Linked DNA regions of Homo sapiens. The protein of the gene in region 1 interacts with the protein of each later gene in a pairwise test. Each region holds a gene or a part of one and is shown on either strand. Other genes may lie near its edges. The genes, in order: HHLA2 and SLC41A2.

The links.
Region 2: the proteins of HHLA2 (region 1) and SLC41A2 interact in binary tests that used the Homo sapiens proteins (3 or more experiments, as listed by UniProt).

What each region holds. Positions count from the first base shown.
Region 1 is NC_000003.12:108,355,433-108,363,766, forward strand, and holds part of HHLA2 (HERV-H LTR-associating protein 2 isoform a precursor), read left to right. Parts: intron 1-2,411; coding exon 2,412-2,729; intron 2,730-6,909; coding exon 6,910-7,014; intron 7,015-8,334. UniProt on the Homo sapiens protein: Through interaction with TMIGD2, costimulates T-cells in the context of TCR-mediated activation. Enhances T-cell proliferation and cytokine production via an AKT-dependent signaling cascade.
Region 2 is NC_000012.12:104,885,291-104,893,624, reverse strand, and holds part of SLC41A2 (solute carrier family 41 member 2), read left to right. Parts: intron 1-4,447; coding exon 4,448-4,592; intron 4,593-7,185; coding exon 7,186-7,332; intron 7,333-8,334. UniProt on the Homo sapiens protein: Acts as a plasma-membrane magnesium transporter. Can also mediate the transport of other divalent metal cations in an order of Ba(2+) > Ni(2+) > Co(2+) > Fe(2+) > Mn(2+).

The DNA.
Region 1 (8,334 bases):
TAATGGGGACTGATTTGCAAAAAAAGAAAGGAAGATGAAAGAAAAGAAAGCAAATCCATCTGCAGCGGTTAGAAGACCAAGACCGAAGCCCTAGGGCTGGTTCTTCTGGCTGTATTACATTAAGCAATCATTCTTACTTTTGAGCATTAGTACCTCATTGATAAAATAGAAGTAATTCTTACCTTGCTATGTATTTATGAGTTGAGTGAAAACATTCATGAAGTGGAAAGAAGCAAATCTATTCTTGAATATTAATGTATTTGTCAATGGCTCATCCTTCAAACAGGATTTTCTACCAGCATTGCTCTTTAAAAGATCAAAGGAGAAAGAATACTTGTCTTTCAGCAGATCACAACTTCCAATCTTACAATTAAACAAAATATTAATGAGTATTATTGCTTCTTTTTAGTTTCTTTACATAGTATTAGCCCATCAATCTTTATCCAACACCTCTATCACAACATGGTCAGTTTTTAGCGCTCGTTCCTCTCATTTATTTGAACAGATCCAAACTCTGATCAATCTCTATATCCAAAACCTGTTTAATAAAAAGTAATTTGCTATCTCCATATCCAAGTCCAAGAAAATTTGTTTTCCTTTTTTTTTTTTTTTTTTGAGATGGAGTCTCCCTCTGTCGCCCAGGCTGGAGTACAGTGGCATGATCTCAGCTCAATGCAACCTCCACCTCCCAGTTTCAAGTGATTCTCCTGTCTCAGCCTCCTGAGTAGCTGGGATTACAGGCACATGCCACCACATGTGGCTAATTTTTGTATTTTTTTAGTAGAGACAGGGTTTCACCATGTTGGTCAGGCTGGTCTCGAACTTCTGACCTCGTGATCCACCCATATCGGCCTCCCAAAGTGCTAGGATTACAGGCGTGAGCCACCGTGCCCAGCCTGTTTTTCATTTTATTAGTAACAAAGCAAAAATTTTCTGTCAGTCTCCCTTATAGGGGGAAAATGGAGGTTATCTTTTTTTTTCAGTCTTCTCTTTCCTAGCATCTCATATTCTCAAAATGCTCACCAAAAATATACTGAAATTGTGGGTGATTCACCACATTTACATGAGTCCAGTGTTAAAGGCATGAGTACCCAATGTTCATTCTCCATCAGTCAGGCAGCAATGGAAACATGGGAAAGGGTTGCAAATGTTAATATTATAAATATTGCCTTTGGAAAATCCTAATTTCTCATGTTCATTTAGAATTGAGTGTCTTGAAGCATGAACAGTTCTTTAGGCTCAGTACTGTTTGGTCTCATTGAAAAGCTATTACGTGCCAAGTTTTGTTGCTCACAGACTGTGAACTTAAGAACATGGTCTCTACTGATTTCTGGATCCACAGCATCTAGTACAAATATAAAAATTAAACTAGGAACATAGCTTACAAAGGGAGTGATTAATTCTATTCTCTGTGGTTGGACATGAATGGGGTTGTCACAGAATATGTGCTTAAGAAAGTTGCATAAGGGTAGAATTTTAGAAGAGTAGTAGGACATTCCAGGAGAAGAAGAATATTCCAGGTAAAAAGCACAGAAAAGTAAAATTGCCTGGATTTGTGGAATCAATGGATCAAGAGATGAACCTGGAGAGGGAGGCCAAAAACAGATGAAAGACCTTTTACACGTTGCTAAGGAGCTTGTTGAGTCTTGGAGGTAGGATAGATCAGAAGAGGGATTTGAACCATCAGAGAGGCCCTGGATTTGCCTTTTGGAGGGCTTACTTTGGCATCACTCTCCTGCAGGTAGACTGGAAGCCAGGTGAGTCTAGAGCCAGGGGGAACAGTCCATGACAGTCCATAGAGGTCAGCCTACAACACTACAGAACGGGAAGGACAAGATGGAGCTGGGTCTGGAGGGGCAAGCCAAGAAAATTCAGCAGTCTCTCTTTAAAAGAGCTCAGTCCAGTGGGGGTTGCCTGCACACAGCTGGAAATATTCTTATATGAAGAAAAAGAGATTTTGTCTAGAAAAAGAGATTAAGAAGTAGTGAGGCCATAAAAGTTAGAGACCACTAGGGAGTAGGTAGGGTACCAAAAGGGGTGTTCTGGGGACCACCAGCATTAGAGGGGCCAAGAGAAGGAGAACATTGAGTTTAATAGGCTAGTAACTGGTAGCAACATTCCTGAGTGCTTACTGTCAGGTTCTAAGAGTTAAAACAAGTATATCACCCCTCTAGCTGGCCCTGGCTTAGCCCTCCTTGAAGGTCTAAACTAACCTTGGTGGGAAACTTTAAAATAGTGGTAGTAAAACTTGTCTTTTAAGAAACCACAGTACAAATATAATTACTTTCCAAAAAGTTATTTCCAAATATATCAGTATTAGTGCCTTTGTTCTCTGCTTTCTAAGTGTAACTTAGAGAATTCTTTTGAAATGTTTATCTTCATTGATGTTTTCTTTTCTATTGTGTTGTTAGATGGCCTTCATAAAATGCAAAGTGAACACGTTTCACTCTCATGTCAACCTGTAAATGATTATTTTTCACCAAACCAAGACTTCAAAGTTACTTGGTCCAGAATGAAAAGTGGGACTTTCTCTGTCCTGGCTTACTATCTGAGCTCCTCACAAAATACAATTATCAATGAATCCCGATTCTCATGGAACAAAGAGCTGATAAACCAGAGTGACTTCTCTATGAATTTGATGGATCTTAATCTTTCAGACAGTGGGGAATATTTATGCAATATTTCTTCGGATGAATATACTTTACTTACCATCCACACAGTGCATGTAGGTAAGTTGCAAGTAGGTTTGGATAATGGGTTTTGGCTGTAGCATTAGAGGTTTGTGAATATCAAAGAGAAAATTAGGTTGACTTTTCAAGAATACATTGATACCCTCTCAAAATATAATCCACAGGGATATTTCTGGTCAGGATGTCGATTACCCTCCCTCCTTCAACCACACAAAAGTCCTGTTTTGAAAAAAAAAATTACTCCCACAGATTTCCTTTCAGGATTTTGGGGCTTCAGAAATGAGGAGGAAACACATTTTGATGACTCCATGCGCTGAGCATCTTCCATTTCTGCTCACTGCTGTGCCTAATATATACCTTAGGCCTAGGGTTTGGGGATTCAAGGCTAGAGACACATTAGGAAGTTACAATCGGGGTCCTGAAGAATGCTGGGAAATCATGACAGTGTCTATGAACTTGGAAATAGTCACCACACAATATTTGAAGCACCAAGTATATATTCCTAGTTCAGTTCATTTTTACCTCTGTTGATAGTTCACTGCCAAAAACCATTATCTAAAATATTTCTAGTCAACTAACCATCAAGTCATGGAATATATACTCATGAAGCTGACCTTCTAGGTGAGCTGGATGGTCCCACCCTTAAACTATCAACTTCACATCATGGCAGACCATGGCAGCTCTTTCTGTCCTTCAATAAAGGTATTTGAACCAGTGGAACTTATGTTTTAGAAATATTTCTATCATTTCAATTGTGAAAATTAGGAGGAATAACATTTGAAGTTTTGGTGATTCTACGTAGTGAGATTTGGAGACAAGAGCACAGAGTTGTCCTTTAGGTTATGTGATCTTCAAATACTTGGAAGCTTCTGGACATTGAGTAATAACACTCCCTTTGTAGAGCTGCCACTTTGAGAGTAGAGAATGAAAAACTGGGGCTGCATTTGAAGCTCCTATTTTTCTCCAAAAATAAAAGTGTCAGTTTTATGTAAAATACAGTTAAGCCTGCAATCTATTTTTAAAAATGTTGCCTCATGTTGGATTAATTTTGGAGTGTAAAAAAAAAAATAGTCAAGAAGAAATGTCCTAAAGACTACATATGGCCCGTCTTCCCACCCAGAGATCTAATTTTCAGTTCACACAAAGTGAAACATCAGGACCATTCCATCTCTGACAAAAGAGTATTTTCAGAACCTCTCATTCTCAAATAAATGTTGGCCAGGTGGGGCTGGGGGAGGGTGTGCTCACCCTTCCCCACGAGGAAGAGGACTTGGCAGGAGCCACCCCAGCAGGCCAGGGAACAGGGCAAACAGTCTTGGTACCTTAAATATCATCCTTTCAAGGATGACTTTTCCATTTGTTGCCTTTCCCAGGAGGTGCTACAACAAGATGGGGGGTACTTATGATTCCTCGAATCTAGATCTGCTCAATTAAGGTTGCACCAAGCTGAATGGAATTAAATAATCCTTGCTAAGTTCTGCTGCTGAATCAATATGTGACCTTGGGCAAATATCCTTACAGATGGGGGAACCTGAGGGTCACGAGTACAGTGAGAAGTAGCTATACCTTGTAGGATTTCCTTTAGGAGGAAGAAAAATGCATATGAAAACCCTGTAGAAAGTCAACCTAACATTCCTACTTAATCTCTCCTTTATATAGGTACAGTAGTCCCCCCTTTCCTTGGGGGATATGTTCCAAGACCCCCAGTGGATGCCTGAAACTATGGACAGTACTAAACCCTATATATGCATTCCCACATGGTACGAGGATTAATCTGTCCTTCCATGTTTATGCCTTGGTGCCTCATTCACACTTCTATGAATACAGGTTCTATTGGGCATCTTCTTCCAGCAGAGCTTGCTTTCATTGCAATTAAAGATTTGCTTTAGATGGAAATGTGGCTGTAGCTTCTTCATCAGCAGACACAGCCTCTCCAGTAATTTTTATATTTTTCAGTCCAAGCTGATTTCTAAATCTGTGTAGCCATCCTCTATCCTCTACTTGCAATAAATGGCCTGTTTCAAGGGATCTCTTGCTGAAGTCTTCATATAAGCCCAAAGCTTTCCAGTGCAACATATCATCAACCAGAACACATTTCTGTTATGTCTTCCACCCTCAAATTTAATGCCATTTCCATCTTAACTCAGCATATACAACACACTGTGGCCATAACTGTTGTAGTTTGAGATGTGACTGCAAAACTAACACAAATTTTCTTCTTTCTTTCTTCACAATTTTACAGATAGAAGATTCATTTTCACCATAGATCTCAGCAACCTCAATATATGATTTTTCATAAGTCAAGGGCTTTAATTGTTTTAGTTCAAAGAAGCACTTTATGGCTTCTTTTTGGTATATCCAAATTGCCAGCATCACTACTCTTGTGCTTTGGGACCATTCTTAAAGAAAATAAGGGTTACTTGAACACAAGCATTGTTATACCATGACAGTCAGTCTGATAACTGAGATGGCTAGTAAATGATTCATGGGGGTAGTGTGTACAACGTGGATATGCCGGACAAAGGGCGCAGTCACGTCCCAGGTGGGATGCAGTGGCGTGACACGATATTTCTTCATGCTACTCAGAATGGCACACAATTTAAAACTTAAGAATTATTTATTCCTGGAATTTTCCATTTGGTTATGTTTGGACTACAGTTGACCATGGGTAACTAAAACCTCAGAAAGTTAAACCAGGGATAAAGCGGACTCCTGCGTGGAATTTCAGAATGACACAAATAGGTGGAGAGATTAATATTTTATTAGTTGTAAAACACTATAGTATGTTCATAGAAAATTACATTTGTTATGTAAAAAGAGGTATTCATTCTAAAGGATAGCCACAAACATTTTCCCCCTGAATTGACCTTTGTGCTCTAATGCTTGCTGCCCTCGTTTTAGCAGAACATAGACCATAAGGTTAGCAGGGTTCTGACTTTGGTAACCCAGGGTCTCTGGAGTCCCCATTTCCATTAATACTAATTTCAACAATTCTAGTCCTGACCAAGATGCTGGAGAAAGTTTAGGCTCCTCCAGTTATTTCTGAGGAGCTCCAAACACTATCAGCAGGTCCTCCTTTTCTGCAGTTTGTTACACAAAGTCAACCACTGTCTGAAATTTTTAAAAGGAAAATTCCAGAAATAATGTTTTAAATTGTGTGCCATTCTGAGTAGCATGATGAAATTGCATGTCATCCCGCTCCATCCTGCCTTGAAGGTGAATCCTCCCTTTGTCCAGCATATCACACCGTGGATGCTACCCGCCTGTTAGCCCTCCTGGTAATCAGATCTACTGTCATGATATCGCAGTGCTTGTGATCAAGTAACCCTTATTTTATTTAAGAATGGCCTCAAAGCACAAGAATAGTGATGCTGGCAGTTCAGATACACCAAAAAGAAGCCGTGAAGTGCTTCCTTTAAGGGAAAGCTCTCAAGAGGAAAAAAGAGCCTATGTCGAGGTTGCTAAGATCTACAGTAAGAAAGAATCTTCTACCTATAAAACTGTGAAGATGGAAAAAGAAATTAGTGTATAGTATGCATAGCGTTCAGTACTAAGGTTTCAGGCATCCACTTGGGGGACTTGGAATGTATCCCCCAGGGATAAGGCGGGGGACTACTGTGCCTATTATCTCTGTGGTCACCTGCCACCTCTAACTCAAGACCAGGGCTTCTACTCATCTCCTTTTATCACCTCTGAACTTACCACTGTTCCCTTAGGACCCTGTCTTCTCTAGGCCAATGGCAGACTGCACTCTTACTTCATCCTCCAAGGTGAACACTGGGCTGAGGCTAATTTATGGACATAATTATTCCTTTATAAAAATGTGTTGTTTCTTATTACAGTATAAAGCAATAGAAACTGAAAATGCATAATAGATGTATTACCTCTCCAGTTTTCAGACTTTTCTCCCAGCTCCCCCACCTCCACCAATCTCCAATAATATTATGGTATCTGTAGGTTTCCCACAATAGATACACTGAGACTAGGAGATATTTATGCTCAAGACAAACTCTCCTGTCCAGTCTGGGCTCTTGGCTTTATCCTAAAGGACGTTTTTATTATGCAAAGTGTTTTCATATGAATTCAGCCTCCTACCTGTAATGCAGAAATAACTAGTTTTTAAAATAGTAAACATACTCCACCCTTACCCACCCACACATTTCTTATCTGGTAATTTTTCTTCCAGTTCACAGACTTTGTTTCTCCTTTTTTTTTTTAGAACCGAGCCAAGAAACAGCTTCCCATAACAAAGGCTTATGGATTTTGGTGCCCTCTGCGATTTTGGCAGCTTTTCTGCTGATTTGGAGCGTAAAATGTTGCAGAGGTAATAGAAGAATTTGGGCTCTGCCCCACGTGTTCCACATCACGTATATTAAAGATAACATGGAAATACATGCCCAAACAGCTACTGGGCATGTAATTGATCTGAATTTTCTGGAATGTCATTCACAAAATTCACCCAAAATCTTTTAAAATGCTCCTACATTTCCACCTAACCATTCTACTTCTAGGAATTTATCTCACATTAAATGAGCAGAGGTACACCAAACTATATACAAGCATATTCACTGCAGCACACTGCTATTGCCTTTAGGTTTCCTACTATTTTCAATAAATAATTGGGAAATTAATTAAAGATCATACTTTACTTTTTAAAATTTTAATCTAGTATTAAAATGATAACCAGGATGACTTAATCATCCTGCATTGAAAAGTAACTGGAAAGAAAAAAGCCAAAGCTTTAAGATGTTGCCTTTGGAGTGATAGGACCATGAGTTCTTCCTTACCCTCACACCTCAGAAGGAAGCCAGATACCTCCTTAAGCCCCTGGGCTCTGCCTGTTCTCCCTTGCTCTGAGTTTAGTCAAGGTTGGTGCTCTGATTGAAACTGCATTGTTCTTTTCTTATGGGTCATTTCATTTTAATTGTTGTTCAATTAATCTTTTTCTAAATTTTAGGCAAAAAATCTTACCAGTAATTTAAAATATCTTAAGATGCCATGATCATGGGAAGTACTTTTAGGGAATACTTTCCTAAAGTACTTTGCTTTTAGTACCAGAATTTTGAGCTAGAGAGCATCTGGGCAAAACTTAGATCTAGTTGATCTCCACATTTTACAGATCAGGAAACAGGAATCCAGGAAGTTAGCTTAAGTGCCAAGTAGGCATGTGAAACAGATTTAGGTGGATCATTTAATATCACCAAGCCAGCTAATGGTAGAGGCAGGTTGAGGCCCCCAGAAGCCCTCCCTTATTCCATTATCCCCCTGAGAAGGCTCTGGGTGTCCTGGGAACTTGAGATAGATCCTATGTCTCTTTTATCTGTCCTTCTGGTTGATATTTGGCTATTGCCCCTGCTGAAGTTAGGAGATTAGGGTTATAGCAGAAACTATTATTGAAGATACAGTTTTAGGGGCAATGGAGAGCAAGCATTTCACCAATTCTAGCCCTGTGATCATTCGTACTAATAAGCAGGATAGTTCCTGTCCCTTGGCTGGCCAGATGGAGTAAGACCACAGGCAGTCTAGCCTGTCCACGAAGATCAACCGTTGACCTAATATACTGATATTTGTGATTGGATTAGGTTCAAATTATGGGAGGTGGTGCTACATCCTACTCAAGAATGATAGTTTAGTTTCTTTAGTG
Region 2 (8,334 bases), on another chromosome or scaffold:
CATCTGTTGATGGTCACTTAGTTTGCTTCCAAATCTTGGCCATTGTGAATAGTGCTGCAACAAACATAGAAGTGCAGATATCTCTTCAACATACTGATTTCCTTTATTTGGGATTATATACTCAGCAGTAGGATTTTTGGATCATATGGTAGCTGTATTTTTAGTTTTTTGAGGAACTTCCGAACTGTTCCCCATAGTGCTTGTACTAATTTACATTCCCACCAACAGTGTACGAGGGTTCCCTTTTCTCCACATCCTCACCAGCATTTGTTATTGCCTGTCCTTTGGATAAAAGCCATTTTAACTGGGGTGAGATGATATCTCATTGTAGTTTTGATTTGCATTTCTCTGATGATCAGTGATGTTGAGCACCTTTTCATATGACTGACTACCATTTGTATGTCTTCTTTTGAGAAATGCCTATTCAGATCTTTTGCCTGTTTTAAAATCAGATTATTGGATTTTTTTTCCTATAGATTTGTTTAAGCTCCTTATATATTCTGGTTATGAATCCTTTGCCAGATGGGTAGTTTGCAAATATTTTCTCCCATTCTGTGGGTTGTCTCTTTACTTTGTTGATTGTTTCCTTTGCTGTGCAGAAAGTTTTAAACTTGATATTATCCCATTTGTTCATTTTTGTTTTGGTTGCCTGTGCTTGTGGGATATTACTCAATAAATTTTTGCCCATACCAATGTCCTGGAGAGTGCCCCTAATGTTTTTGTGTAGTAGTTTTATAGTTTGAGGTCTTAGATTCAAGTCTTTAATCCATTTTGATTTGATTTTTGTAGATGGTGAGAGATAGGGGTCTCATTTCTTCTGCATGTAGATGTCCAATTTTCTTAGCACCACTTGTTAAAAAGACTGTCTTTTCCTCAGTGTATATTCTTGGCACTTTTGGCAAAAATGAGTTCACTGTAGATATATGGATTTGTTTCTGGTTTCTCTATTCTCTTCCATTGGTTTGTGTCTGTTTTTATGCCAGTACTGTCTTTTGGTTACTATAGCTCTGTAGCATAATTTGAAGTCAGGTAATGTGATTCCTCCAGTTTTGTTCTTTTTGCTTAGGATAGTTTTGACTATTCTGAGTCTTTTTGTGATCCCACATAAATGTTAAGATTTTTTTTTTCTATTTCTGTGAAGAATGTCATTGGCATTTTGATAGGGATTACATTGAATCTGTAGATTGCTTTGGGTTATATGGACATTTTAACAATATTGATTATTCTAATCCATGAACATAGAATATCTTTACACTTTTTGGTGTCCTCTTCAATTTCTTGCATCAATATTTTATTTTATTTTATTTTATTTTATTTTATTTTTTTTTTGAGATGAGGTCTTGTTCTGTTGCCCAGGCTACCAGGCTAGAGTGCAATGGCGTGATCTCGGCTCACTACAGCCTCCGCCTCCTGAGTTCAAGCAATTCTCCCACCTCAGCTGGGATTACTGGGGTGTGCCACCATGCCCAGCTAATTTTTGCATTTTTAGTAGAGATGGGGTTTCACCATGTTAGCCAGGCTGGTCTCAAGCTCCTGACCTCAGGTGATCCACCTGCCTCAGCCTCCCGAAGTACTGGGATTACAGGTGTGAGCCACTGCTCCCGGCCTGTTTTATAGTTTTTATTATAGAGATCTTTCATGTCTTTGGTTATTTCTAGGTCTATCTTATTTTACTTGTAGCTATTGTAAATGGGATTACTTTCTTGATTTCTTTTTCAGATTATTCACTGTTGGCATATAGAAATGCTACTGCTTCTTGTGTGTTGATTTTGTATCCTACAATTTTACTGAATTTATCAGTTCTGATAGTTTTTTGGTGGAGTCTTTAGGTTTTTCCAAATATAAGATTATGTCATCTGCAAATAAGGATAATTTGACTTCTTTCTTTCCAATTTAGATGCCCTTCATTTCTTTCTCTTATCTGATTGCTTTAGCTAGGACTTCTAGTAGTATGTTAAAAAAACAGTGGTGAAAGTCTCTTTCCTCTTTTAAATATCATTATTGTATTAGAGATGTCTAAGATCTTTTTCAGCTTGAAATTGTAGAAATCTATGCAGGGGTAATAATCAAAACATTTAACAACCAGTAGAGTTGTTAAATATATATATAAATAATATATAAAAATAATATAAATAATATATAAAATTTGAAAATATATTCCATTTATTTTTAAATACCCTGAACTCTTACAAAGTAATATGAGTTGTAGTATAAATTATTTGTCAAATTATCCTAATAATTTCCATCTCAGCTTTTCATTTTTCCTCCCATTCTTTGTCTTCACTTTTCCTTTATCATCCTCTCTCCCTGCAACTGTCAGTCAAGATAGGAGTCAGACATGGCTAGGGATTCACTGATTCTAGTTGCCATAGCCCAAAGCCTGTGTCTTTATGTGCCTTACTCCACCAAGAAAGTGTGAAGAACAGGGAACCCCAACCAGGCCCCTCAGGACACACCTGGTACCAGCCAGTGAGGCAGCAATTGGTTGAAGCCCAGTCACAAGTAGACAAAAGTGAGAAGAAAAGAAGATGGAGCGGTGGGGGTAATGGTTGGGGGAGAGGGTTTTTTCTTCCTGAGGCTTCTTCTGCTAACACTTGTGAAAGAGTAGATGATGAGTGTGGGAGGGGAGTAGGATGGGCTGGCACAAGCCTCCTCTGCCTGGAGACTGGCCATGGAGGGTAGAAAGAGAGAAGGGTAGAAAGCACAGACGAGGCCCACACTCCCACTTGCTCAGGGTTGTGCTCTTCTCACTGTTAAATGGAGCCCCAGGCAGATCGCCTGTCACAGATTTCTTCACGATTGTACAGAATGGTCTTCTGGACCAAATACATACATAAGTAGTCAGATAAAGCAAAGTCTCCAGTCCCACATGAGGAACTGTTGCCTCACCAGGAGGGACGTGTCCTGTACCAAACATCTCTTCAGGCCTATGGCCCCTGTTAACCTTCACATCTACTACTTAAACCCAGACTTTGCTTTCTCTTGGGTACAATTAGTCATTTTTCAGTTAGTCATTATTTTGCATATTTCCAGAATAGGACTTCCTCATCTCAGCTGTGTGCTTTTATTTTCTCAGAAATTGACAGATTTATATATACATATATACACACCATGATGTCTGCAGTAGGTTCTCTAGCTCTGTGTTCCAATGTCAAGCCAGACAGGACTTGGAATCATAGTGCTAGAATTTATATTATAAATTAATTTTACTGCTTTAAAGTGTAATTACATCATTTACTAACCAGAATGAAAATCCTGAAATATTTTAACTGCTACACTCATCATGGTGCTTATTGGTTTGAATCTCAGCTCTGTATCTGTGGATGACATCCACAGAAGCTGTAATATTAATACAAGATCATGGGGCTGGAGTCCAGGATATATGGTCTCTTTAGTCCTGGCTCTTCTGTTGATTTACTATATGACTACTTCAGGAATTTTTTACTTGGAGCCCTCGATTCCAGCACGTGGATTGGCTTCAGAGAGTCCATGAACATCAAGAAATTCTACTCAAAATATTGAGTGCCTCTGTGTTTGCCTAGAGAAAGAGAACTCTATTCTATAGAGTTTTTACCAGATTGTCAAAGGAGTCCATGACACAAACTCAGCTAAGAGTGAGTGCAATAGATGATTCTTGTAGGGTTTCTTTTAGTTCTGACATCCTATTAATCTGAGGCTGAGTTAGCGGTGAGTGTTATTTCTTAGTGGCAGGTTTTTTTTATTCTTGCTTTGTGTCAGCACTGTGGAAAGCAGTTTATATATTTATATAATTAATTTAAATCACAAAGTTTGAGGTTATTGTGGTCTTACTGATTAGGAACTGAAATTTTCATAGCACTAATCACAATTGTGCTTATTTGTGAGGTTATTTTCAAATGTTTGTCTCTCCCACTGACCAAGAGCTCTGTGAGGGCAGGGAATAATCTACGTTGACCACTGCTGTAGCCCAACACAAAACATAGCACATTATACATAGTAGAATCTAAATAAATACTCCTTGAATGAATGAGTTTAAATAATTTGCTACAAGATTAAGTGCTAGAACCAGGAGTCAAACTCCTATCTTTCTATTATAAAATCCAATCTCTTGCCAGCACTACCTCTAGAGTCAGACTTCAGATGTGTGGATTGGGTACTTCTCAGTCTGAAGGTGGCATTTTCTTAGGTGATCTATTAGTTATACCATCAGCATCACTTGGGGTGCTTGTTAAAAACAGATTCCTGGACTCCGTTCCATACTTGTCACCAGATCATCAGAGCAGTTTGAGAACCCACCATCTTAGGGAATATTAAAACCAAAATATAGTAACTACTCTAAAAGGTAATGTAGCTCAATTATTACATGCAATACTTTTTTTGACTTTTTGTAGTAATATTTACATAATCAAAATGTTTAAATGTGTTTTTAAAGTGAATAATTCAGTTGGATTTATGAAAAAAATTTTAGGTTCAGGCAACAGTAGTGGGTTTTCTAGCAGCTGTGGCAGCAATTATATTGGGCTGGATTCCAGAAGGAAAATATTACCTTGATCATTCCATACTTCTGTGCTCTAGCAGTGTGGCAACTGCCTTCATTGCATCTCTTCTGCAGGGTAAGTGAATTTATAAATGTCTACTCTATAGCCTTTTACATTTAAATGGTTTATTTCTTAAGATGACTATTTTTATTTAAATGATACCTGTTATGAAAACAACAGAAAAAACATATCTACAAACTTAAAAAATGCCTTAGTTATTCCAGATATATTTACATTTCATTATTTATAAAACTTAGTGTAGAACAGGCTTTTCTGAGGTTGTCTCCTGGCCTTGGATACTCCGTTATAGTTCCTCAAAAAGATCAGGAAAATCGCCTAGACATTCATTTGTTTCTGTAAGTTAAATAAATTGGGAAACTCCTTTCTGGACATCATGCAGGGGATTTACTAGCTTGTCACTTGAGTAACAAGTGTTCCAGGAATTCTGGGTTTCAAAAGTCATCCTCTGTTGAAATTTTTTTGTTTCAGATTTCAAGAAAAATTTCTTCCCTGTTTCTGTGGCAATACAAATATAACCTTATACTTAAGATAGCATATTGTTGGCTATAGAATTTAAAGAGCCAGAAGGTTTTAAAAATTAACTACTTTAGAACTTTTATTTGGGTTATTTTTCTTTATATTTATTCGTATGAACTTTACACTAGAGAATTAGCTTATTGTGGAATCACAATCATAAAGACTTTGTTCTTTTTATTTTATAATTGCCATTTTCTTGCCCTTATATCACCAGCAAAGTTTAAAGTGGATTATTGTCATGTTAGGTGATCATACAATGCAGCTAACTTTTTTGGCTAGGTTCTGGGAATTTAGGGAATCTTATTAAAATTATAACTCGATTTCCAAAATATTTTCAAGCATTTTGTTTTAGTAGTTTAATTGTATCGGGGTAGTTTCTTGTCTTCATAAAGAATTACTATAGTTGAATGGAGTTAACATTGACCAAAGCAGAGTGAAGTTAAGCTATTGGAAAATTAAATTGTTGGTACAAAAATAATTATGCCATCAGCATGCTATTTTTTTAGGCTCATTTGCTTCTTTTTTCTTTCTGATTTTATTTCATTTAGAAAGTGTCATTTAAAATTTTTCAGTCTAACAAGTATTTGAAAGCTTTTCAAAACTATCCAAAATTCAGAATTTTAAAAAGTATTTGTTTAAAGCTTCTGACTTTGAATAATGTGTGTTCTAATTTTATGATAACTTGACCTTTATAAGCACTTTAGTATATGTAAAGTAGAAACTCTTAGCCATATTTGTAGGTGAGAAAACTTAGGTAAGGTGACTTGTCCAATCTCATCAACTTGTTACCAGCTGAATCAGAACTAAAACACGTTTCCTAACTCTTAGCTCTTTCCACTGGACTATGATACATACAAAATATTTGTTTTCAGTTGAAAAGATATAGATGGTACTATGTGTAGGAGAACTTCCCATATACATCTTCAAATGTGCTGATTTTGGAAAAAGATTCTAAGCGATTACATCTTGCCTGATTATTGCATAATGTATTTTTTTTAAAAAGTTTTCTGCTATAGCTTTTTTTCTTTTTCAATGATATTATGGGAAAGGTAAGTCTAGTAATTTAAAAAGCCTCCAGAATACTAAAATATAAGGCACTGTTTGATGCAAGACAAAAATTCTGCTTATTAAAATTTTGGCTTTAATAGGTAGAGTAAAAAACACTGGGCTAGAGTCACAAGCTATGTGACTTTAGGCAAGAATTTAAGCCCTACTCTACAGGACCTCAGTTTTATTATCTATAAAGTGAGTATGCTGGAACAAAAACATTTAGAGTCATTTTAACTCTAAAAGTGCTGTGAGATTCTGTTACTGTTTTTCTCCATAGCCATATTTAGGCTTTCATATTGATTTGTGGTTAGCACATTTAAAGTTTTCTCTTTACTACATCCTCTTAATGAGTATCTTGGTGTGACAAAATCTACACAATTTAGAGTGGATATAAATGTTAATAGTTTTATCCCATTTGTATAATTTAAGAAAATTAGGATGTAAAAGTACAAGTACACAGTTAAATTTTCATCTTCTATTCTCTCGTAGGTTTATAGACAGAAACTTCAGGTTTAAAGAATATCTTTTACAAAGACTGTTTCTTGTATTCTGGCCTTCAGTGTTTTAAAATTTAATTATGTCCTGCTGCTTAATACTTCAACGTCTTTAAGTAATAAAATGAAATAAGCATTTCTAGCTGCCATATGTAAACAAATCTGGTTTTGTTGGCCTTCTTCCCAGTTGTTGTACATATACATATGACTCACCTTTTTTTTTGATGTTTTCATACTTTATTTGAGGGTTAAAATTAAAACCTTTGGATTCAATACACACAAATACATTATATCTAAGATATACATGTCACTAAATCTGAAATTTTAGCTTTACCATAATTTTAGTAGCTTTCAGGCCTCTAAATACAATGCTGAACTTCTTAAATTTTCTATGATCCCCACTTGGAGTTTGTTGAAAGGCATTTTGCCAAAGCGTTAGAGTAAATGTTTTGTTTGCTTTAGTCAGCTTATCTAAGCAGTCTAACTGGAATTGATATGCTGTTTTTCTATCCTACACATTTTGGTATTTGGGGGATTGATTTTCTTTAAATCATAGCCTAAAAAGTAATGAACATTCTTTCTTCTAGGAATAATAATGGTTGGGGTTATCGTTGGTTCAAAGAAGACTGGTATAAATCCTGATAATGTTGCTACACCCATTGCTGCTAGTTTTGGCGACCTTATAACTCTTGCCATATTGGCTTGGATAAGTCAGGGCTTATACTCCTGTCTTGGTAAGTTGATTTAAAACTAAATATTGTGTGTTGTCTCAAGTCTCTTTAAATAAATATTGTTGCAGCAATGCCATGAATCCATGGTAGCCTTCATTTGCATTAGAACTGCTGTTGAGACTGATTAGGATAACTATCATTTGTTTTATACCTACTATGTGTTATGATTCCCACTTTCTTTTTTCTCGTAGAGTTTAAAACTCTGTAAAATAAGGATTATCATCTCTAATTTTAGATGAGAAAAGCAAGGATCATAGAAGTTATGTATGTTACCCAAGTTTATATAACTACTAGTAAAAAAGTTGAACACAGGCTTATCATATTTTGTGATTTCTGTCCTTTCCTGTAAGTGTACAGCAGCTAGGAGTCAACCTGCAGTGTTCTCTGTATAGAACCATCTCAGAATATAAGCTTATAAGTGGTACTTAAAATTTACCAATGGAATGTTTTTCCCCATCAGAAACCCACACCAATAAGTAGCTTCATGGCAGTTAACAAAAGGGAAAAAAAAATCACCACAAAAATTAGACTGAATGCTGTATAAAGTTGGAGCCATATATGTAATTCCTGATAAATAGTGATAGAGTATTTATGGAATCTAATGAGTTGTTTTAATGCAAATTTGTGTTCTGGAAATGGTAAATACATATGATTTGTGAGTGTTGATGACATGCTAAAAGTTCATTGTGGTTTTATTATTTTTAGATGCCAAATTAAGGAAAACAGAAACTTACAGTAATACAAGAAAAAAACATGAGTATATAAGCCAAGCCAGAGGCAAACATTTATTCACAAATCCTCACATATGTTCATGGATTCTATACAGATTTATGGTGTACTTTAAAATAAATCTAAAGCATGTTTCGTTTTAAGAAGTAAGGGTCTCAGATATATGTTCTTGAAATAAAGAAAGGGCTTTAACCAACCAAAGGCAATAATTTTCTGTGACTTTTGGAGACATCAAGGAAGCTTCACTTAGCATATAAAATTGCCTTAAGTTATTTA